4 linked regions of the Homo sapiens genome follow. The protein of the gene in region 3 interacts with the protein of the main gene of each other region in a pairwise test. Each region holds a gene or a part of one and is shown on either strand. Other genes may lie near its edges.

Evidence for each region.
Region 1: the proteins of BRD8 (region 3) and AGTR1 interact in a two-hybrid assay, tested with the Homo sapiens proteins (one large-scale study listed by BioGRID and IntAct).
Region 2: the proteins of BRD8 (region 3) and MIS18A interact in binary tests that used the Homo sapiens proteins (3 or more experiments, as listed by UniProt).
Region 4: the proteins of BRD8 (region 3) and FSD2 interact in binary tests that used the Homo sapiens proteins (3 or more experiments, as listed by UniProt).

What each region holds. Positions count from the first base shown.
Region 1 is NC_000003.12:148,695,586-148,702,003, forward strand, and holds the start of AGTR1 (type-1 angiotensin II receptor), read left to right. Parts: upstream 1-2,317; 5' UTR 2,318-2,542; exon of another isoform or gene 2,543-2,564; intron 2,565-6,418. UniProt on the Homo sapiens protein: Receptor for angiotensin II, a vasoconstricting peptide, which acts as a key regulator of blood pressure and sodium retention by the kidney.
Region 2 is NC_000021.9:32,271,014-32,276,987, reverse strand, and holds part of MIS18A (protein Mis18-alpha), read left to right. Parts: intron 1-2,091; coding exon 2,092-2,158; intron 2,159-5,974. UniProt on the Homo sapiens protein: Required for recruitment of CENPA to centromeres and normal chromosome segregation during mitosis.
Region 3 is NC_000005.10:138,160,181-138,166,154, reverse strand, and holds part of BRD8 (bromodomain-containing protein 8), read left to right. Parts: intron 1-46; coding exon 47-327; intron 328-988; coding exon 989-1,441; intron 1,442-1,741; coding exon 1,742-1,835; intron 1,836-2,021; coding exon 2,022-2,068; intron 2,069-2,810; coding exon 2,811-3,025; intron 3,026-4,008; coding exon 4,009-4,101; intron 4,102-4,290; coding exon 4,291-4,359; intron 4,360-5,086; coding exon 5,087-5,264; intron 5,265-5,974. UniProt on the Homo sapiens protein: May act as a coactivator during transcriptional activation by hormone-activated nuclear receptors (NR). Isoform 2 stimulates transcriptional activation by AR/DHTR, ESR1/NR3A1, RXRA/NR2B1 and THRB/ERBA2.
Region 4 is NC_000015.10:82,763,406-82,769,379, reverse strand, and holds part of FSD2 (fibronectin type III and SPRY domain-containing protein 2), read left to right. Parts: intron 1-349; coding exon 350-500; intron 501-3,348; coding exon 3,349-3,482; intron 3,483-4,081; coding exon 4,082-4,214; intron 4,215-5,974.

The sequences.
Region 1 (6,418 bases), on a different chromosome or scaffold from region 3:
TGGTTTGTTTTGAGATGGAGTCTCACTCTGTCACCCAGGCTGGAGTGCAGTGGCACAATCTCAGCTCACAGCAACCTCTACCTCCTGGGTTCAAGCGATTCTTCTGCCTCAGCCTCCTCCTCCTGAGTAGCTGGAACTACAGGCATGCACCACCACGCCTGGCTTTTTTTTTTTTTTTTTCTTTTGCATTTTTAGTAGAGACAGGGTTTCACGATGTTGGCCAGCCTGGTCTCGAATCCCTGACCTTGTGATTCACCCACCTCGGCCTCCCAAAGTGCTGAGATTACAGGAGTGAGCCACTACACCAGGTCATTTCTTAGTATTTTTACTCTTTTGATCTATAGTAAGTAAAATTGTTTTTATCTTTGAATTTTTAAATTTTTAACACAGTTCAAATCAGTGTGTCTGATTTCATCTCCTTCTCTAACAAACCAGGGTGCCAGAACTGCTTCAGTTTCTCTGCCTTCTCTTTGTCTATGATGACTAATGTATGAAGGTATCTGCTGCATCAAACTTTAAACTTCACATTATCCTTATTTCTCTTGACCTTGACAGATCTGGCATCTTTTCACCTGGCTGTAAGCAGAAAGTCCTTGATCTCCTTAACTTTTTGAGGCATGGCAGCATGTGAGGCAGGGAGAGGACACAGACCCACACAGCAAGTGGTGAGAAGCCAACAGTGGAATTGTTTTCTTAATTCCATTTGTTGATTGTTTATTGCTAGTGTATAGAAATACAACTGATTTTTGTATATTGATCTTGTATTCTAAAAACTTGCTCAACTTGTTTCTTAGTTCTAATAGTTAATTAATTGATTCCTTAGGGCTTTTTAATACAAGATCATGTCATCTACAAATAGAAATTGTTTTACTTTCTTTCTAATCTGGATGCCATTTATCTTTTTTTCTTGTCCAATTGCCCTCACTAGAACCTTTAGTACAAAGTTAAATAGAAATGGGAAGACTAGACATTTTGTCTTGTTCCTGATCTTAGACATAAAAACGTTGTCTTCCGTTATTATGTGTGATATTAGTTAAGTTTTTCATAAATAAACTTCACAGTTTGAGGAAGTTCCTATTCCTAGTTTGTTGAGTGTTAGCATGAAAAAGTGTTGAATTTTGTCCAATAGTTTTTAAAAATTTTTTTAGACAATCATGTAGGCTTTGTCCATTTTTTACTTCTTTAAATTTATTTTTATTGATACACAATAGATGTACACTTTTTAGGTACATGCAATAATTTAATGCCCCTCACTATAAATTCGGAGCTGCCTCCTCGCCGATGATTCCAGCGCCTGACAGCCAGGACCCCAGGCAGCAGCGAGTGACAGGACTTTTTAGGTACATGCAATAATTTAATGCATTCATATAAAGATCAAATCAGTGCAATTGGCATATCCATCACCTTAAATATTTGTCTTTTCTTCATGCTAGAAACATTCAAGTTATTTTCTCCTAGCTACTCTGAAATATACAATAGATTACTGTAAACTACAGTCACCCTACTCACCTATCTAACATTAATTGATTTTTGGTAAACTAATCTAATCTTGCTTTCTGGCATCAACCTCACTTGACCATGGTGTATAGTCCCTTTCATATGTTATTGGATTCAATTTGCCTACATTTTGTTGAGAATTTTTATCTATACTCTTAAGAAATATTGATCTGTAGTCTCGTGATGTCTTTATCTGGTTTTGTTATCAGGGTGATACTGGCCTCATAGCATGAGTTGGGAGATCATCCTTACTCTTCTATTTTTTGGAAGAGTTTGTGAAGAATTGATATTATTTCTTCTTTAAATATTTATTGGGTTTTTAAAATACATTTTTAAAATGCAACTTGGGTAGCATGTCCAATAGGAACAAATGAGTGTCCACCCTTGAATTTCATAACCCTGGAATTAATCCATGTAATCTATGATCCACAACTGTATTACCAAAGTTCGAGTTACTCATAGGAAAGAGAAAGAAGTTCTCTAATTCGTCCTTAAAAGTTTTCCAAGTTCAGAAAAAAAAAATGTTGAAGAACACGAATCTCCGCAGGAAATGATACTCCTGTACCCCCAGCTCGCTCTCCCTCACGACCCCTCGCTAGGCGGGGTTCGGGACCAGGTGAACGCTGATCTGATAGTTGACACGGGACGACTGTGGCATCATCCTTGCTGCCGTCAATATCCCGAGAGGGAGGAGGTTGGGCCGGGAGGGTCTCCCGGGGCGGGGCGGAGGAGGAGGGAATGCAAAACAGAGCCTCGTCCCCGGAACCCAAGAAGCAGCAACGCCCCTCACTATAAATTCGGAGCTGCCTCCTCGCCAATGATTCCAGCGCCTGACAGCCAGGACCCCAGGCAGCAGCGAGTGACAGGACGTCTGGACCGGCGCGCCGCTAGCAGCTCTGCCGGGCCGCGGCGGTGATCGATGGGGAGCGGCTGGAGCGGACCCAGCGAGTGAGGGCGCACAGCCGGGACGCCGAGGCGGCGGGCGGGAGACCCGCACCAGCGCAGCCGGCCCTCGGCGGGACGTGACGCAGCGCCCGGGGCGCGGGTGAGTCCGCGCGGACCGCCAGGCATGCTTGGGGGACTTCAAGGGCGGGGTGCTAAGTTTCATGTCACGGTGTCCTAACTGCTGGCTCTATACTGGGAAGCTCTCGGGGACCAAGGAAAGAGCGACCGTAGTTCTGGTCAGCGCCTGCCCCTGGAGCTGGCCACACTTTCCCAAATCAGGTGAGGGGCTTCTGGAATGGGAGGGAACAAGGTAGGTTTGTTTGCCACGTGCCTCGAAATTCTCAATCCATTTTAACCAAACTCTTCCGAGTGCAAGGAAGAAATCTACAGAAATAAGATGCAATTCAATAAACTTTCTTCCTGAGGCTTTTAGTTAACTCTTGTATTTTAGCCATCATCTGAGCGGGAAGCCGGTATGACTCTGCAAGGCGTTCGTTTAAAAGTTGTGCTACTTTTGAGGTGAAGTTAAGAGTGTCTCCATCCACGCCCTCTGCTTCCCAGTCAATGTCCCTGCACTGCTCACGTCCCTTTAGCTCTCTCCCTGCAAACCATAGCGGTGGGTCCTAGACACGGGACATCGCTCCAACCTTGGCCAAACTCTCCCACCCTCAGGGTTCCCAGATGTCCTTTGAATAATCAAACTGAGGAAGGAGAAGCAAGATGTCTCCACACCCCAATCCCTACAGCCTTAGCCAATGCATGTGTGTAACTGAGACAGAATTTTAGCAAAAGGTCTCCTGCTTCCAGGACTAAACAGAGCCTCTGGCAGGCCACTGCCCGACACCCAACTCCATCCTCCAATTTTCTTAAATGTCCAGGTAAACATCTCCATAGTGCCAGCCTGCTATAGTCTCCCGAAGACCTCAGCAATTCTTCCCCAAAGCGTCTCCTTCTGCACCGTTTTTTTCTTTGGGCAACCATTTGTGACCTGGCTATTGAGCCCACCTGGGCCTCTTCTCTTTGTTTGCTGATAGCCTCGTTAAGTATTAAAAACCTACTCCCCCCCTTCAGGAGCCCTCTTTTAATGAAAGTTTGGGTACTGGGATCAGATTTGGGACTTGGCTACATTTATTTCCTGTGTCATTCTGAGAAGAGAAAGTAATAGAGGCAAGAAATTTGGCACCCTATTGATCTATTTTATTACTTTGTTGAGCAACTTGTGCTTCCCGCTGAAGATGCTGCATCCCAACATGATTCTCTTATTATTAGTTACCACCTGAGGGTTTTGGATCTCCAGGTGTTTATTTCACATAGCATATGCTTTAACCCCCTTATAAGTCTTCTCTAAGGAAGAAACTGCCATACTTCCCTTGTCTTCTCCGGTGTTTCCCTAGCTATAAAGGCCCCACCTGCATAACCTGTCCTCAGGCTGTGATGTATTCCCGGGTGCCCTGGTACCTTCTCCTTCCTCTCCACCACCCTTCCTGACAGTGCAGGGGCAGGAAAGCATGGGGAGAAGGGAAATGGAGACTCCCACTTAACTTGCTGTGTGATAGTAAGAGCATTATTTCACAACTCTGAACCTCAAGTCTCTGCCCATAAGGTTCCCTCCAGTGATATAATTCCTTAATTTCTTTTGTTTTGGTTATTGCTTTAAAATAAAAGTCTAAGCTTAAGGCTAGGTTATAGAAACTGCCCATCATAATTGCTAGGTCTCAACATTTGCTTAAGTTTTGTGATTCTTAGTTTCAAGTCTGTTACCCACTCTCTCTCCCCGCCACCTTTTTTCCCCCTGACTTCATTGTTCTTTGTTCCCATCCTGAGGCCTTGATTTCTGGTTCTGCTCTTCTTTGACCTTAAACTGAATCAACTCTTCCATCATCCAACTCAGAATAAAATTGGTTTTCTTCCACCGGTTCCACTGATGCCAATGGAAGACTTGTCTTCCTTGCGATTTGCAAAATGTCTTTCAGTCACAGGTGCTGCGGCAATGCTGCTGTCCCACAGCATTCTAAGCTTCAGTCTTTCTCTCTCTTATCGTGGGTCAGTATTCAGAAAAGGGCAGATTTGTGGGTTGTTCAGGTTTCTCACTTTTCTTTTTCTTCTTTCTAGTTTGGGATCAGAGTTGTGTGAGTATTTGTGTATATAATTTTGTTTTGGTTTTTTGTTCCTGCTGCTACTTACGACTGCTGTTATTATTTCAATTATGACTAATTAATACTAATGACTAATTTTCCCCTATGCTAGAGGGAAAATAAGGAAGAAAAGTTTACTCTGCTACTTACCCAAAGCCCAGGTAAAATGCTTAGCTGAGAAGGAATTTAAAACTCATAGTTTAAATGCATGATGCATGTCTGCTGTCATTTTATCTGTGCTGCCACAGTGTCCTTTCAAGCAGATAACTGAGAGTTGCTGTATTTTGCTTTCGAATTTGTTACAGGGACAAAAATAGTGACCCCTCACATTTAGGTGTTTTGGCTGCTTAATGCGAGCTCCTGCCCTCTAGCCGCATGCTTATTAGTTTACCTAGCCCTTTTTCTGGTCAGTCATGACTGGAGAATGCCAAAGAGTCTCCCAAGTAGGCTACCAAATTAAGAATTGTGTTTAGAAGTTTGAAGTCAGTCCAAGTGTTGTAAAGATTAAAACGTTGTTTTGAAGATATGCTGTGTCAATAAACAAATATGGAGCCAGAGCAACACAATGTGACCAAGTGTCCAAGCCCAGCTTAGGAACACTTTTCTCCCATGTTATCTAGCAAACTGACAAATCAGCTTTCCAACACGTGATGATTGGAAAATGCTATTAGTTTCCTTCAAAATTCTCCTAATGTTTCTTTTTCAAAATTGCCTAAGATCATTGGATTATGTGGTTTGTGTTTCTTTTCACTGTAGCTGCTTGTTAAAGCAGTATACTCAATCTCTGATAAGCAACAGTAAATTTGATCGATTTGTATCCTAAATTTAGCTATCACTTTACATTTTGTTTTATTCATAATATGAACTTTAGCTTCTAAAAATCAACTTTTTAATAGCTTAATATATAAAGCCATCTTAAATCAAGGAATATCTATAGGGACTTAAGGTAATATTCAACTAAATTGGCAAGTGACTACCATTATCCTATTAAAGCTCTAAAATGCAATATTTCAATCACAGAAAAAAAATCTTATAATTTAAAGAACTATAAATTGCCAGATGTTTCCCTAGTTATTACGTTAGTGACAAATTAGACAACTGGAAATAGAAAACAGAGTATATGTTTGGAACAGTCATAAAAGGACTAGTGACTATTGCTGCTAGCTGTGGTTGTATTAACATTAAAATATTTGCTATGGGATTTTTCTTCTTATCAAAGCAGATGCTCAGATGAGGAAAAACTTTCTTGCATATGAAAATCAAAATTGTCTTCCAAAATATTTAAGTAACAAAAAATTCATTATGTAGTATAAATGCTGTATGATTACATTATTCTTATAGTTAATTTAGAAGGGTTTGAATTTGTTTTTGTTTTGTTTGTGTTTGTTTCTTCGATAGGTGCATTCTCTAACTGTCTTAAGTAGAAACAAATGTCTAGAATCTCTCAGTGATTATCAGTCTCCTTCCTATTACCAAGAATGTTTTTATTGTGTTGTTAATCTCACATGTAATTTTTTTAACATTTAAAAGTTTGGAAAATGGGTAAAAAATGAGTGTGCCTTGTTTCCTATTATTACAATGTGCCTTCCTATTTCAAGTCCCAATTCTAGATTTCCTTAAAACTTAAAATCATAGAATTAATAATCTTTCAGTTTAAGTCAACTTTTGTGTGATTTCTTGTCCACTTATACACACATAGATGCCTTCATCTTCACCAAATAATGTAGAAATTTTATTTAGTTCAATGGATTTAAGTACTCTGTATGCTTAAGTACAAAATAAGAATATTGAGAAATACACATATGATTGTGTACCTTTTTTTTTTTTTTTTTTGAGACAGA
Region 2 (5,974 bases), on a different chromosome or scaffold from region 3:
TATGATTTTTTAAAATAGGATTATTTATTTAATAGGTTTTTTTTTAATAGGGTTATAGTGGGTTAACAGCCCTCTGTTGCCCAGGTTGGAGTACAGTGGCGCAATCATAGCTCACTGTATGTAACCTTGAACGCCTGCTCAAACTATCCTCCCGGCTCAGCTTCCCAAGTAGCTTGGGACTACAGATACACACTAACACCTGGCTAATCTTTAAATTTTTTGTAGAGACAGAGTCTTGCTATGTTGCTCAGGCTGATCTCAAACTCCTGGCCCCAAGCAATCCCCTGCTTCGGCCTCCTAAAGTGCTGGGAGTACAGATGTGAGTTACAGCACCCAATCCTATAAAGTTTATATAAATTGTTTTCCCAACTCCAGTACTCATTAACATAAAAAAGCTTCTTAATAGCTTTTTCATTCCTGAATTGTTTGATTAATCATTAGTGCTCCCCACGTCCACATCTCCAAGAAAATTTCAAGTTTATGTGCTAGAAAATATTTTCCTTTTTTTTTTTTTTTTTTTTTTTTTTGAGACAGAGTCTCACTGTGTTGCCCAGGCTGGAGTGCAGTGGTGCAGTCTCAGCTCACTGCAAGCTCCACCTCCCGGGTTCACGCTATTCTCCTGCCTCAGCCTCCTGAGTAGCTGGGACTGCAGGCTCCCGCCACCACACCCCGCTAATTTTTTTGTATCTTTAGTAGAGACGGGGTTTCACCATGTTAGCCAGGATGGTCTCGATCTCCTGACCTCATGATCCGCCTGCCTCGGCCTCCCAAAGTGCTGGGATTATTTTCCTGTATTTATAAGTGAATGCTAGCTTGGCTGCAGGTACAGTTCTTGGTCACGCTCTTTGCTTTTGACAGGTGCTGAGCAGCTGGTGCAAAAGCCTTGAGACTGGTTAAAGAGAATAAAGATAAGATTTAGGGAGGAAGGAAGAGATCAGAAACTGCAAGGCGTTGTAGTCTGTTCTAAAGAGTAGTAATCTGTTCTAGTGAGTACGTTATTATGCTAGCTTAGGCAGGGGAGTAATGTGACCCCGCATTTTCTTTGGAGAAAGCATTGAAGGAGGAACAAGTATGGAAGTGGGGAGGTTAGTGAAGAGCCAGGGCAGTAGTCCAGGCAAGAGGTGGTGCTGGTGGTTTGGGGGCTGGAGTGAAGTTTGTGAGGTAGAATTGATGGGATGGATCAGTGGAGTAGATACAGGGGAGCAGGATGAGGAGACAAAGAATCAAGGATGACACCCTGGTTTCTGATTTCAGCAAGCAGGTAGATGGAGTTGGAGTTTACCGAGTTAAGGTAGACTGTAGGAGGCCGTGAAATCAAGAGTCTGTTTTGGCCATTTTAGGTCAGATGTCCCTTCTTCATTTCTCTTCACCCTCTACCCTGTCCTTTAGTGTTTCCTAGAGCTGGATTCTTTGGGAATGTTTGCTGCTGCCTCTGAAGTCCAGCAGTGACCTCTGTCCAAGTCATTGTTCAAGTAAAAGATGTGTGGCTGGGATCCTGAGGACCCTCTCAGTTACTTTTAGAGAAATGGGCCCTGTGTTTGAAATCTGGAGATATATGTGTTGGCTGTTTGCATCTTCCTAGGTTTGGAACCCAATTTCACTATCTGGCAGATAATTCTTTGCAGTGTGTGATTTGAGGTTCTACTTGTTCCAAGTTTACTGTGGAATGAATTTTCCCCTCTAATTTTAGCCATTCTATTAATGTTAGTGGTTTTCAGGGAAAGGGAGGAAATAACCTTTTAAAATTTTTCTTAAATTTTTATTTAAAAATTTTTTTTTAGAGATGGAGTCTCGTTATGTTGTCCAGGCTGACCTCGAACTCCTGGCCCCAAGCCATTCTCTCACCTTGGCCTCCCAAAGGGTTGGGATGACAGGTGTGAGTCCCTGCGCCTGGTTGGAAATAACTCTTATTCTGCTATCTTTTCCCAGAAGACCCCAGTACATTTAGTTTTAAACCGCTCTTTTGTGTGTTTGACTTTGGGCTTATTTTTTGTCCTCCGAGTTCTAAAAAGTTGGATTAGAAACTCTCTGTCTGCAGGTATGTTATAACGAACTACATTAATAAATTATTGTTACTTTCTCTGTTTCTAGGTGTTTCCTGTAATGTTTCTGTGGATAAGGAACAGAAGCTATCCAAACGTGAAAAGGAAAATGGTTGGTGAGTAAAACTGTATTTATATGAATATGTTAGAGAATTTTCTTTAATAAAAATCTTTAAAAGGTCATTACTAGTAGTAAGATTACTTGGGATAAAACTTTTCATGATAGTAAAAAAATCAGTCGTTCGCATATATCAGTTCTTTTTTTTGCTTTTTCTATATCCTGTTTTAGAAAGGAATATGTTAGTTCTTGAGTGGTTGTGGTCACCTTTAGATATTGAAAAGTTAGAGTTTCTAGATTTCTAAAAGCATATGCTGACATTCCCTTTTTGGATCTTTGGGCTTGGTGCTGAAGAAAATCAAAAATAAAAATAGAAAAAGAAGGTCGGGCACGGTGGCTCACGCCTGTAATCCCAGCACTTTCGGAGGCCAAGGTGGGCAGATCACCGGGGGGTCAGGAATTCGAGACCAGCCTGGCCAACATGGCAAAACCCCGTCTCCACTAAAAATACACAAATTAGCCGGGCATGGTGGTGCGGGCCTGTAATCCCACCTACTCAAGAGGCTGAGACAGGAGAATCACTAGAACTACGGAGGTGGAGGTTGCAGTGAGCCAAGATCGCCAGTGCACTGCAGCCTGGGCAACAGAGAAAGACTCCGTCTCAAAAAAAAAAAAAAAAAAAAAAAAAAAGAAGAAAAGGAAATACCTATATTATAAAATCTCAATGTTAAAGGGTGCCTTAGGCTAATGCTGCCCAACTTTCTCATGTTATGGCACACACATAAAATGCTGCTGTCACACACACAGCCTATTGGGGTAAACAGACAAGGCTGTTTGTGGCAAGAGCAAACAACACAGGAGCTCCAGCAATCTGAAGCCCTGTGTGGCCACTTTAAGGGTAGAGGGGACAAATATCTTGCCATACCTGCCACCCATGTGCCATAGTGACGCCTGAGCAAACTGAGTGGGAAGCGCTGCCCTATATAATTGTTGCTGCAAATGTAAACTGTATCTTACACTTGCGTATGAAATAACTTTAGGTGGTACACAGTTAAACAAAAATTAATTATGTGTATATTTTAATGTGTATTAAAAATACTGGCTTTTCATTTTTAGTGATGCTAGAGTATCCTATCAAATAAAGTATATTTCAATTTAAAAAAAATTACTCTGTGCACTTATGACCAAATACCTCCTGATGACCCCTCCTCCCAATACCATCACATTAGGAGCTACCATTTCAACTTATACATGTGGTAGGGGACAGAAACATTCAATACTTAGTCGCTCCTAAAACCCTTTCGATTTCTTGAGTGATGGGGTGATAAGGGTATCTTTTGTTACCATGTTTGGTCTTAGTCCCCAGTTCTGACAGAAGAGCTTCTAAGATGCTTGGAATCTCTGGAGTGATAATAATGTCGTTTTTAATCCTAATGAGGTGACTGTGGCTGGGGGGCTTCTATGTAGCTTCAGGATTGGGGGCCAGAAGGACCAAGGCATGATTAGAGGGTTGGAAGTTTTGGCCCTACCCCAACCTCTTCTCCTACCTCCATCGAGGGCAGAGGGGCTAGAGATTATCAGCAATGGTGTAATTAATCATGCCTGTGTTATAAAACCTCCAAAAAACCCATGGGTTTTAGAGAACTTCCAGATTGGTGAATATGAGATGCCGGGAGGGTGGTGTACCTAGAAAGGTCTTGGAAGCTCTGTGTCCCCCTTCTGTAACCTTTGCCCTATGTATCTCTTCCATAAAAGTGAAAAAAAAAAAAAAAGAAAAAAAGTTTCTCCATTTAAGATAAATTAGTAATAGTACAGATGGTTTGTGGATGTGACAGAAATTGTGGTGCCGGCATGCAGGCCATAAAAATTTGGAAAACCCACCTCAGATCATTTCTCATTTGGTAGTTGAAGAAAGTTAGGCCCAGGGAGGCTAGAACTTTGCTAAGGTCACAGGACTAATTAGCAGTAAGAGCTAGGATGATGCTTGTTACCCTTCCTTACTGCCTTCGAAGTGCTCTTTCTTCTCCACTTTCTAGCTCTAGCTCTAGCCATTTTGATATCACCATCATTTTTGTCCTATTTGTGTACCAGGTACCAACTGTGCTATTACATACTAAATTTTTAAAATTAAATCAACTCAAAATTTTTATTTAAATTTGTCTTAAAAGGATTGTTTTTACTATCATAAATACATACTTGCCATAACTAGAAAGTAACTCTGAAGATAATTACAGTGAAAACAAATGTTATTAGTTCTAGCTGAGATGTTGTTGCCTGGCTGGTTCTCTGCCTGAGGTCTGTTCTGTTACTATTAAAAGATTTGCGACTATGAGACAAGTGTCAAAGACAGTCTAGCACCAAACCGAGACTTTCTTCTTTTTTCTAATCAGGATTGATAGAGAATTCACTCTCTTTGATCCAGAGTTATTAATACTGTTTGTATCACCTAAACCCATCGATTAGACTGCCTTCAGTTGTCTTGGACTTCACTAGGGTTGTGTGCTGCACACTCCCGTGTTGCTTTGGGATGCTTGTGAATTTTTTGATACCTGCCTGAGCCTTTCTGCTGATGGTCAGCAAGAGCACTGTGGGCTTTAGAAATATGTTGTGAAGGTGCCAGTGCTGTTTTCTCTGTTAAGTCTGACTTTGTCCTTTGTTGAGGATCTTAACAATCGGATTATTCCTTGTCTAACATCACCTTACGATTATTGGCACTGCCTTCTCAATGTTACTGTTCAATGAAAGGGGTGAATGCTGGCCAAATTCTTGCCAACTGTGAAAGCGGAAAGTTGCTGCCTTAATACTAGCTACCATCTCTTCATTGCTCCACAAGATGATTCTAGAAGTGTGAATGGGTTTGTTCCTATTTTTGGTGGTGTTTAGGTTGATTTTGATAACTCGGGATAAAACAGTCTTATTCATGGCTCAGTGGATTTGGGGAGTTCAAGCCTCTGGTTTCTCTGAGTGTCCTTTCTTGGCTGATGACATTAGATATTAGTTTGCAGTCTTGGTAATGGTGTGAGGCGGTCTTATAATGGTAATGAGGTTTGATATATAGCATGGAGGTTTACCTGTTCACTGTGAGTAATTTAAGTGGGATTTACCGACATGCTTTTTATTTCTCATATAAACATTTAAACAAGCTGGCTGGGTATGGTGACTCCTGCCAGTAATCTCACATTTGGGAGGCCAAGGTGGAGGATTGCTTGAGGCTAGGAGTTCGAGACCAGCCTGGGCAACATAGCGAGACTATTTCTACTATAAAACTAAAATATAGAAGCTTATAAAAGCCCGTAGACACTTAATATGTAATCAGTGGCATACTATCCAGCTAATCACATCATCAGTGAGAATTCATGACTTAATCAGATGGTGATCCATTTTGTTCTTTGTTCCATATGTTGCTGTAATAATTAACAGTGTCTCAGTATCTGTAAGTAAACAATGATGTAGTCTATAATCTGTGAGTCTTGGGTAGCTCCCTTTTGCTTGATAGCAGGAATGGATATTTAGTGATTACAAGTGTTTCACATACTGAGTAGGAGTTAGAATACTTTTGTAATAAAAATCGTTTGTGGTGTATGTTTTACTACTGTGATCACTACTAGATTTAAATCTCTAGTTATCATTTTGCTATGTGTTGGAATGGTAATTTTAGTATATTTATAGAATGGTAAATTTGGATGGGTCAGTTCAACAAGGCGTTTGGGAGACACTGGATTCTAAGCCAGGTTTTAAGGAGACATGAATAGGCTTTGGGGGAGGGTATATTCAAGTGTGTGGAACCTGAGTTGAGAGGTAACTAGAATGAAGAAACAATTACATGGGTTGTCATCTAACTTTAGAGACTTTTTTTTTATTAAGCCAAGCAGTA
Region 3 (5,974 bases):
TGTACCCAATAAGCTTCTGAGATGCTTTTCTCTTTCTGTTACTCAGTGAGTCAACCCGACAACTGTGTTCCCATGGAGGCTGTGGGGGATCCACATACTGTGACTGTTTCCATGGACAGCAGTGAAATATCCATGATCATCAATTCTATCAAAGAAGAGTGTTTTCGATCAGGGGTAGCAGAGGCTCCTGTTGGATCAAAGGCTCCCAGCATAGATGGGAAGGAAGAATTAGATCTGGCTGAGAAGATGGATATTGCTGTGTCTTACACAGGTGAAGAGCTGGATTTTGAGACTGTTGGAGACATCATTGCCATCATTGAGGACAAGGTAACTATTCAGCGAAGCCCCAGAGAATCTCATGGGTCCTACATAGGCTTCTCTTTTCAGCCTCACTTTGGTGCTGCTGCTGCTTTTTTTTTTTTTTTTTTGGAGACAGAGTCTTGCTCTTTCATCCAGGCTGAAGTGCAGTGGCACGATCTTGGCTTACTGTTACCTCTGCCTCCCAGCCTCAAGTAATTCTTGTGCCTCAGCCTCCTGAGTAGCTGGGACTACAGGCACATGCCACCACGCCTCACTAATTTTTTGTATTTTTAGTAGAGATGAGTTTTACCATGTTGGCCAGGCTGGTCTCAAACTCCTGGCCTCAAGTGATCCACCCACCTCGGCCTCCCAAAGTGCTGAGATTACAGGCATGAGCCACCATACTCGGCTGCTTTGCTTCTTACAGTAAGAATTACTTAAACAACTCTCCTACTTCTGCCCATCTCCATCTTTGTAGCCCTTTGGTGCTAACATACTAGTCATCTCCTCAGGTCTACCCATGTTACTGGTTTGCACAGGACAGGTGCCTCTTCATTGTTTGCCTCCACTACATGGAAAAAATGGAGCGAAAAGCTGCAGATTCAAGCCATCACATTTGGTGCTAACAAAAATTGAAGGACTTGGGCTTCTTTCTGTGACCTCAATAGTCTTGTGTTTTGTGGGACAGGTAGATGATCATCCTGAAGTGCTGGATGTGGCAGCAGTGGAAGCAGCACTGTCATTTTGTGAAGAAAATGATGATCCTCAGTCCCTGCCTGGCCCCTGGGAGCATCCTATCCAGCAGGAGCGGGACAAGCCAGTACCTCTCCCTGCACCAGAAATGACGGTCAAGCAAGAGAGACTGGACTTTGAGGAAACGGAAAACAAGGGAATACATGAACTGGTGGACATCAGGGAGCCCAGTGCAGAGATCAAGGTGGAACCTGCAGAACCAGAGCCAGTCATTTCAGGAGCCGAAATAGTAGCTGGAGTTGTTCCAGCCACAAGTATGGAGCCACCAGAACTCAGGAGTCAGGACTTAGATGAGGAACTGGGAAGTACTGCAGCTGGAGAGATTGTTGAAGCAGATGTTGCCATTGGGAAAGGCGATGAGACTCCACTTACAAATGTGAAGACAGAGGTACTTAAGAAAGATCGGGGCTGGGGAGATGGAGGTTTATACCTTAGATAAGAAGTGACAGCTTAGGCTTTTTGGTTTTCCAGTTGCATTCCTGAGTTCTGACATGTTTGATGTGTCCAAAGCCCATAGGCTGTGATTAGTGTTATATATACTTATTCCTGTTAAGGTGACCATTGGAGTCACATTACATGAGTAGGACTTAGAATTTCTTCTATGGTCTCATTATCACTGAAGAATAAAGTTGTGTGAGCTATAGCGATTTATCAGTACTTAGGGTGTTTTTTCTTTTCTGGTTTTCAGGCATCCCCTGAAAGCATGTTGTCTCCATCACATGGCTCAAATCCCATTGAAGATCCTTTAGAGGCAGAGACTCAGCACAAGTTTGAAATGTCAGGTAAATAAAGTCCTCTTTCACTGACTTGAAATCATTTGCTTTGGCTTCTGAGGGGTTGTGGGTTGTGGGCAAGTAGAGGAGGTAGAACAGGTCAGCATGTAAAGGAGAGCTGCAGGGGATTATGGTCCATAGGAAGGGGAAGGCTAAGGTGGAAAAATCTTCAGGTAGTCTTTCTCTCCTCTGCAGACTCATTGAAAGAAGAATCAGGGACTATTTTTGGAAGCCAGATAAAGGTATTTCAGACTTTTCTTTATTCCTCTTGCCATGTGATTAGATTTCCCTATAGCACTACTTTTTAATGAATTTCAGTAAAGTCACATCTTTATTCTCTGATAAGAGACTGGTATGGAGTTGCATGGGGAAAAGCTGCAGTAGACAGGCATAATGGGAGTACTATAGCAACAGGTGCCTCCCATATGAAACAGCATGTGAATATCACACAGTCCTTAAGAAGGCTTGATACACTTAGAGTGATTTGTAGTGAATAAGGATACCTGAGCCAAGGAGAACATACAGGAATCAAGTTTATTAATTAGACTATCCAAAGAGAATCATCCAGAGTTTTCTTTTTAGAATTATTAAAGCAGCAGTAACAGAGGCTTAAAGAATGTGATGTGAGCTTGCTCCATCAAATGAGACACAAAATAAAAATTATTTTTGATAACTTTGTACCCAGGGTCAGAGTTACTCTCGAGCAAGGGGAAAGAAGGAACGCCTCTTAGCTTAGTCTTAAGTAAGTAGCTTTTTTTTTTCTTTCTTTTTAAAAGATCCTGGGTATTATTCTTTGTCCAGGTTCTAAATTACTTAACGCAGTGTCTGTAAGTAGATGGTAGTATAAGTGATAGACAGCTGAGTCAGGAAACAGCGTGAGGTCATTTCTAGAACTAATTCTAACCCAAAAGACAGATCATGTTTAATGATGCTTTGCTGGATAGCTTTGCTTGCATTTGTTAACTGGAGCATACTGTATCTAAGGATGCCCCAGGTGAGGATGAGGAGGAAGATGGTGTCAGTGAAGCGGCCAGCCTAGAGGAGCCTAAGGAAGAGGATCAAGGAGAAGGCTACTTGTCAGAAATGGATAATGAACCTCCTGTGAGCGAGAGTGATGATGGCTTCAGCATACACAATGCTACACTGCAGTCACACACACTGGCAGACTCCATCCCCAGCAGCCCTGCTTCTTCACAGTTGTGAGTATCTGAGATTCTTTCTTTGAGGCCAAGGCAGTGAAGGTGAGGAGAGGATCTTTTCCTTCCTTCCTTCCTTCCTGTCTTTTCTCTTTTCTTTTCTTTTCCCTTTCCTTTCCTTTCCTTTCCTTCTCTTTTTTCTTGTTCTCACTCACCCATGCTGGAGGGCAGTGGTGCGATCTCAGCTCACTGCAACCTCCACTTCTCAGGCCCAAGCAATCCTTCCACCTCAGCCTCCTTAGTAGCTGGGACTACCAGCCTGTGCCACCACACCCTGCTAATTAAAAAAAATTTTTTTAGTAGAAACCAAGTTTTGCTACATTGCCCAGGCTGGTCTCAAACTCCTGAGCTCAAGCGTTCCACCTGCCTCGGCCTCCCAAAGTGCTGAGATTACAGGCGTGAGACACCATGCCTGGCCTTTTTCTTTATTTTTAAATTTTTATTTTAAAAAAATTTTTTTAAGGGACAGGATCTATGTGGTCCAGTCTGGTCTTGAACTCCTGACCTCAAGCAGTCTTCTTGCCTTGACCTCCCAAAGCAGTAGAATTAGAGGCATGAGCCACCATGCCTGGCCTGATCTTTTCTTTAGTGTTTCCCTTTTTTGACCTGGAATAAACAGCTGACAAGAAATAATTAGGGCTGGGCATAGTGGCTCACACCTGTAATCCCAGCACTTTGGGAGGCTAAGGCAGGAGGATCGCTGGAACCCAGGAGTTCGAGACCAGCCTGGGCAACACAGTGAGACCCTATCTCTACAAAAAAATTAAAAAATTAGCTGGGCATGGTGGTATGCACCTATAGTCCCAGCTACTTGGGAGGCTGAGGTGAGAGGATTGAGTCTGGGAGGTTGAGGGTGCAATGAACATGATCATGCCACTGCACTCCAGCCTGGGGGACAGAGTGAGACCCTGTCTCAAAAAGAAAAGAGAATTATAATTTTTATTTTTTAACTTGTGCCTAGTGGAATTGCTGTATCTCTGTTTCAGCTCTGTCTGTAGTGAGGATCAGGAAGCTATTCAGGCACAGAAAATTTGGAAGAAAGCCATCATGCTTGTATGGAGAGCTGCAGCTAATCATAGGTGAGTGGGCTTTACCAGTCAGTAGGTTCATTTTCTCCTACTCTTCATTGTTGGTGACTGGAAAAAAGTCTGAGTAGGCTTCTGTGGAACTGCTGGTATTAGTTCTTACTACCTTTAGTTACTTAGAGTAAGTTCCCTCCCTGCACTTCTGGAGAATGTCAGTAATTGCACCTTATTCCTTTTGGACAGGTATGCCAATGTCTTCCTGCAGCCTGTTACAGATGACATAGCACCTGGCTACCACAGCATTGTGCAGAGGTGAGCCATGGTCCACCCAGCATGGTAACTTGCCTGAATTATAAATTGTCCAGTCTTAGTGAAGTTTTGCTTTCGATAGAAAGTTTAAAGCAAGTAAGTTTATGGTTTTGCTATAAGGGGCACTGAGTGCTAAACTGATAATTCCAGTGGCTAGATCACCACTGATAGTCTAAAAGAATAAATCTCCACCAGGAGCGGTGGCTCACGCCTGTAATCTTTGGGGGTGCTGAGGTGGGTGAATCACTTGAGCCCAGGAATTCAAGACTAGCCTGGGCAACATGGCGAAACCCCCTCTCTACAGAAAATACAAGACTTAGCCAGGTGTGGTGTCGCGCATTTGTAGTCCCAACTACCTGGGAGGCTGAGGTGGGAAGGATTGCTTGAGCCTGGAAGTTCGAGGCTGCAGTGAACCAAGGATTGCTTGAGCCTGGAAGTTCGAGGCTGCAGTGAACCATGATTGTGCCACTGCACTACAGCCTGAGTGACAGATCCAGGCCCTGTCTCCAAAAAAAACCTAAATAAACTCCCTTTATTACCTTTCTCAATGCTTATTATATAGATTGTTTCTTGGGTTAAGTGCATGTTTTGGGATAAGGGGTTAGCATTTAAGTCCTGGCAGCTGGGAGTTAAGGTATATATGAGAAAGTCTATATGATAATGTATTCATAGATCTAGGTGCGTCCTCTTTCCATCCCCACTGCTACTTACCCCTGTTCTTTTTTTTTAGGCCTATGGATTTGTCAACTATTAAGAAAAACATAGAAAATGGACTGATCCGAAGCACAGCTGAATTTCAGCGTGACATTATGCTGATGTTTCAGAATGCTGTAATGTACAATAGCTCAGACCATGATGTCTATCACATGGCAGTGGAGATGCAGCGAGATGTCTTGGAACAGATCCAGGTACTTTGAGGATCCTTTGTGTTTCAGCAAGGATGAAATTAAAATACTTCAAGGGGAGGATTCATATTGATGCCAAGAAGGGTTGCTGTGGCTTTTACGTGGATAGCTGTCAGGGACACAATTGAAAACATAATATTTTGTTCTTACTTTTATTTTCTTTGGTGTGGTGAAAGAGTTGTGATACAATATTCTACCTTTCTTGGGCAATTATTTGCAGTTTCATAAAGTTTTTAAATAAAATTTTTTAAAAATGGTGAATGTATATTTTTTAATTACATTAAGTACCTGGTACATAGTAGGTGATCAGCAAATAAGAGTTTCTCCTTTCCTTTTCCCTGCTTTTATCCTATGATTGTGTTACCAGGTACTTTTTGGGGTGTTGAACTTGGAAGAATATTGCAAATCTTTGCACGATTTGTCAAATTACTTAAATTGCTGAATGATCTTTGGTTCATTCTAGTTTTATTATTTTTCTCATTCCTGGAGGATAGAGATTTTGATCCTATGTTATAGCAAAAAAAAGTTAGGGCTGCTTGATTCTTTAGCATCCCTATTGCAACTAGAATTAAAACTTAATATGCTAAACTTCCAATCAGTCAAAATATATTTGAGCCAGAAGAGTACTATACAAAGTTCTATTTACAGTGCTTAAAGTGTACTTAATTTGTCCCTACTAAATCAGGTCTCCATGGCCTACCCTGTTTCTTCTC
Region 4 (5,974 bases), on a different chromosome or scaffold from region 3:
CAGGTTGGTCTCGAACTCCTGACCTCAAGTGATCCACCCGCCTCGGCCTCCCAAAGTGCTGGGATCACAGGCGTGAGCCACTGCACTCAGCCGACAGTGACAGTGACATTTTCTGATGGTTGGTCTCAAAATATAAAAAACTGCTACTCTCGGTCACACTGACATTTAAACCTTGCAAGCATCTTCTATTCCAGGAACATCTGGAAGGGATTCCCTGGTTTGCTTTTTATTGCACTGAATCTCTTTTGTGGGAGGAAGAAGGTGGCTGTGATGTTTGTCCATGGCTCTGAACAAAACAGCTGGAAATGAACACAACAGTTGTTCATCTCTCCCTTTCTCCCACATTTAGCACCTTCTCCCCCCATTATTAAAACCAAAGAGATAAGGAGCTGTGAAGAGGCTGTGCTGATTTGCTGGGAGTCTGGGAACCTGAATCCTGTGGACTCGTACACTGTGGAGCTGACCCAGGCTGAAAGTCCAGAAGCCTCGGGTGTAACTGAGTGAGTCATGAGGGCATTTGCTGGGCACGAGAGCCCTGACACCTGATACAGTGACATGGCTTAGGAAGTATACGGAGTCTGAAGAGAAGGTTGGCATTTTTGATACACAGGAATCTCAATTTTTGGTTGCTTAGTGTTCATGAGAAGTAGCTGGAATGCTATTACTGAAGGTGAATGACAAGTGAATGAATAAGTTGGTTGAACCTCAGGTTTTGTTGTTGTTGTGGTTGTTGTTTTAGCTCAAGTAAGGTTTCCCATTCATTCATTCATTCATTCATTCATTCAACATGCATTGAGTGCCTGGGTGGTGTCAGGTCCTGTGCAAGGCACTGGGAACTAGATGGACAAATTTCCTGCCCTAATGGGGCTGACAGTCTGGTGGGAAAATAGACAAAAGGCAAGAAAACAAACCAATGTGTAAAATATACAGTGCTAGGAAGGAAAAAGAAATGTAATAAAACAGAGAATGGTGGTGGAGGTGAGGATCCACTTTGGATAAAGAAGATGTTTAAACTGAGACCTGAACATATGGGAAAGACTGAGCCCCAAGAACAGCGAATGCAGGGGTGCTTCGGGGGGAGGGGGCTGCATGAACACAGGCCCTGGGGCAGGAGTGAGCTGCTGGAGGAACTAAAAGACCCACCTAGCTAGAATTCAGAGAGGTGAGGGTGAAAGCCATAGGCGAAAACAAAAGAGATTGCAGCTGAATGTACAAAGAATGTTTCATCTATCACAGAAGACTGTCTGGAAGCTCATGTTCACCCCTCATTCTCAGAGAGCTAGAGGGGTTCACAAATTGATAAGGGTTGGACTCAGTGACCACAAGGGCTCGCAGAACCTATGAGTTTACAGCAGCCTATGATGGAGGAAGCATAGGTTTACCTCTGGTTTACAGAAGTTTGTGAAAGGGGATGAACCACCCAGGCAGGCCAGCACCAGCCACCAGGACCAGGGGCTCCCCTGCTGTGGAACACAGGGGTGCACTGACCTGGAGCTGGAGAAATGAAGAGGTGTTGGTGTCAATTGTTAGGGAAGCAGATTCTTCTATGCTAAATGCCAGGCTTGAAACGTGGCCATATGCCACCCATCCATCTGTTCCAGGTGGAATCTGTGTGTCCATGGCCACACAGAGGCTGACTTTGGTAATCCACTCTGGAGATACTCAGGAGTGGGGCAGTGTGTCCAGTGGTTCTGGCCATCCTAATGGTTCAGGTTTCCTTTGCAATTTATGCTGATACTTTAGGAGCACTTGACACCTGGGACCAACTCACAATGATGAGGTCATCAGAGGGCTGGTCAGTAACCTGAGAGATGACCTGAGAGCTGGTGCATATTCTTCCAGTACAAATCCAATCATGGCGACCCATTGCTGAAGAAAAGGCAAAACTCCTTCACAGGCTCTGGCCCCTTCCTGCCTCTCCAGCTCCTCCCACACCAGCTCCCCTCCCTCTCAAGATCCCACCACATTGGTCATGTTTCAGTTCCTCCTACTTTTCATGCTCCTTCCTGCCACAGGGCCTTGGCACATGCTTCTCCTATGTAGGAGACTCCTCTGTCCCTTTTTCATCCAGTTACCTCCTCAGCATTCTTCAGAGCTCTGCTCAAAAGCCATCCTGCCCCCACCATTATACACTACAGCACACTATCAACTTGTCTTGGTTACCATCTTACATTCCTTCCAGTGATTGCCTGAAGAATGCTGCTCTTCCCATCTAGACTGTAAGCTCTATGAGGGCAGGAACTACATTTGTTTTTTCTGAGGGCCTCCCTATACAGTGCCTGGAACCTAAGGAGTTTAGTTAACATTTATTGAATGCATAAGTAAAAGTGCCCCTCTGGCCCAGAGCTGCAGCCTGAAGATAACCTGGACAACTTGGCCTCATCTGGGTGAGGGTGTTGTATTGGTAAATGGGCATCATCCTAAAGACTTCTCTTGCCCACTGGACTGACATGGGGTTGGCAACCGCAGCAATATAGACAGTGGCAATTATGAGCTTATATTTCTGTATAGTACAATTTAAATACATTGGATTATTTCCAATAGGCAGCTGTTAGGGGGTTAACAGCAGTTAACACTTTCAGCTCTAGTCAGAATTGTTTGCTCATAAACATAAATCAAGGACCTTTTTTTTTTTTTTTTTGAGACAGTCTCACTCTGTCGCCCAGGAGTGCAGTGGCGTGATGATCTCGGTTCACTGCAACCTCCAACTCCCAGGTTCAAGCAATTCTCCTGCCTCAGCCTCCTGAGTAGCTGGAATTACAGGCACCTGCCACCACACTCGGTTAATTTTTGCATTTTTAGTAGAGACGGGGTTTCACCATGTTGGCTAGGCTGATCTCGAACTCCTGACCTCAAGTGACCCACCCGCCTCAGCCTCCCAAAGTGCTGGAATTACAGGCATGAGCCATTGCACCTGGCTGAATTGACGGCCTTCTATGGGCCCAGTACTGTACTAAGAATAGCGGTACTCAGCCCCTGACCTCAGAGACATTATGATCCTAACAGACGGACAGAGACACACTGGATTCTACTGCATGCACACTCCATGATGCAGTGTTAACCATATGCCAAGCACAGTGCTGGGTGCCTGGGAAACCAGAATGAGGGACTTGGAGAGGAGACAGCCACAAACACAAGAAGTAGCAATGAAGTGAGAAAAGCAGACCAGAGACTGTGGGAGGGAATGCAGAGGGGGAGCCAGCACTCCTGGCTATGCTGCTGTTAAATGTGGGTCAGAGGACAGGAGCGCAAGAGTGAGTTAAACCTTCCAGCTTTGAAAGGGATGCCTGGTGCTTGGGCCTGGGTGTCCTAGCCCCATTCTGACTGCAGCTCTGCTTCCTTGTACAGGTCTGTTGTGGGCATCCCGACCTGCGAGTCCGTGGTGCAGCTGCAGCCGGGGCGGAGCTACATTATCTATGTGCGAGCCCTCAATATGGGGGGCCCCAGCGTGAGGAGCGAGCCAGCTACAGTCCACACCATAGGTCTGTGCCCCAGCCCACAAAGTCTCTGGGACCCAAAGTGGCCACTCTGTGGCAGACCCAGTGCTGCTATGACTTCACTGGGAAATTGATGAATATGCACAGATGTGGACACGTGGCAAGTCAGGCCAGAAGGAGTTCAGGGGTGTCCCATACTGCCCTAATTGCAAGTCAAATGGATCATTAAGAAGTCCTTCAATTCCTATTTCCCTTGGCAAATAGGTTAGAAATTCTTATCCATACACAGGCATTACAGCTAGAGGTAAAGAGCACAGCCTCTGGAATCAGAGGGGCTTGGGGTTCAAGTTTAAGTTCTATCATTTGCCAGCTGATTTCTTAACCACCTTGTGCCTCTGTTTCCTCATCTACAAAATGGAAATAGTGACACCTGTTTCTAAGGGTCGTCGTGAGGATTGAAGGGGATACTAGGCACACAAGACTGCCCGATGAGTGTCAATTGCCATCCTTGTTAACTGGACGCCTATTACTAGGCCAGGTCCAGGCTTAGGTGTATCCCACACGAAGCTAAACCGGTGACCACCGCCCACATGGAGAAAGCAAGTGATTGGCTGCGGGTCTTCTGTGTGTTCCTCCTCCCACAGGAAGCTACTTTCGCCTAAACAAGGACACTTGCCATCCCTGGCTGACCATTTCTGAAGACGGACTTACGGCTGTACGAAGTGAAAGGAGAACCCCCGCCAGGGAGCTGTCACCCAGCGACACTCACTTCACCAGGTACTTTGTCAACCGCTCACAAGGGCGTTCTGTGAACTTCCCGAAGGTGCACTGTTATTCAGGTCAAATCCGAATATGGCACGGAGGCAGCCTCGAGGGAAAAGGAATCCTACAAATGAGTGAGGAGGGAGGAGCCTAATGGGGAGGGGACCCAGAGGAGTGTGGGCAAGAGGGGTCAGGCAGGTGCAGGCAGAAGAGCCCCCTGGGACGGTGAGGTCAGGAGAGGGCGCGGTCCCCTGGGAGGGCATGGTCCCTGGGTCCTAGGCTGCCAGAGCTGGAGCAGCCAGAGGTCATGAGGGTGGGACAGGAATTACTAGTGGAGGGTGTCCAAGTTCTTGGCGTTCTGAACAAAGAATTGGACAAAATGCACAAACAAAGCAAGGAAAGAGGCCAGGCACGGTGGCTCATGCCTGTAATCACAGCACTTTGGGAAGCCGAGGCAGGCAGATCACCTGAGGTCAGGAGTTTGAGACCAGCTTGGTCAACATGCTGAAACCCCATCTCTACTAAAAATATAAAAATTAGCCGGGCCTGTTGCGGGTGCCTGTAATCCCAGCTACTCGGGAGGCTGAGGCAGAAGAATTGCTTGAACCCGCGGGGCGGAGATGGCGCCACTACACTCTAGCCTGGGCAACAGAGTGAGACTCCTTCTCAAAAAAAAAAAAAAAAAAAAGCAAGTAAAGAATGAAGCAACAAGAGCAGAGATTTATTGAAAACGAAAGCACACTCCACAGGGTGGGAGTGGGCCAAGCAAGCGGCTTAAGGGCCGGGTTACAGAATTTTCTGGGGTTTAAATATCCTCTAGAGGTTCCCACTGGTTACTTGGTGTACACCCTATGTATATGAAGTGGCTAAAGTGAAGTTACAAAGTCATTTACTGGGTGTACACCCTATGCAAATGAAGAGGATGTTTCCTGCCATGCTGAAATACAAAGCTATTTACTTGGACTTAGAAGGTTGGGGTTTTTCCGTTTAATTTAGTTCTAGGAAGTCCTTAGGTTCCCTGCCCCCAGACCCTGTTCTCCTGCTTCACAGGGGTCATGCTGTGGGCTAGTGGGAGAACAGAAACAAGGACCCAGGTCTCCCACCAGTTAGCCCAGTGCTCTCTCTCCTGCACTGTGGTACCTTACAGCAAAACTCCTGATGGAAAACTGGCCATGGAGTGAGTCTGTTCCAAAGTTCAAGGCAGATAATTGCTTTGTACATGTACATATGAAAGAAGCCGGAAAGATCATGTTTGGAGAAATATAAGGAATTTGGTATGTCTGCGGTATAGGATCCATGACGGGAAGAGGTGGAAGATGAGGCAGGAAAGTCGGAGAAAGTCCAGTATACACACAAAAAGTTAGGATTTTATCCTCTATGTGGTGAGAATTATTGGAGGATTTAAAGCAGGGGAACAAGATCAGATTACATTTCAGAAAGATTCCAGTGCATGGTAGAACGTGAGCTGGGGAGGGAGAGGGAAAGGCAAAGGCAGATGGGAAACAGAGACCAGAGAGGAGACTATGGAGGGCTTGACTACGCAGTAGCATGGGTGAGAGGAGCCAGGGGAGTCAACTGCTGTTGAGCACATAAAACCAACAAGGCTAGGTGCTCACCTGTTTAAAGGGCAACAGAGAGGAAGATGAGTCAGGGACTATCATATTGCCATATTTATAGAGTGCTTACCAAGTGCTAAATGTATTTCATCTCATGCAATCATCCTAACAGCCCTGTACTATTACCAATCCCAGTTGACGGATGAGAATACTTAAAAC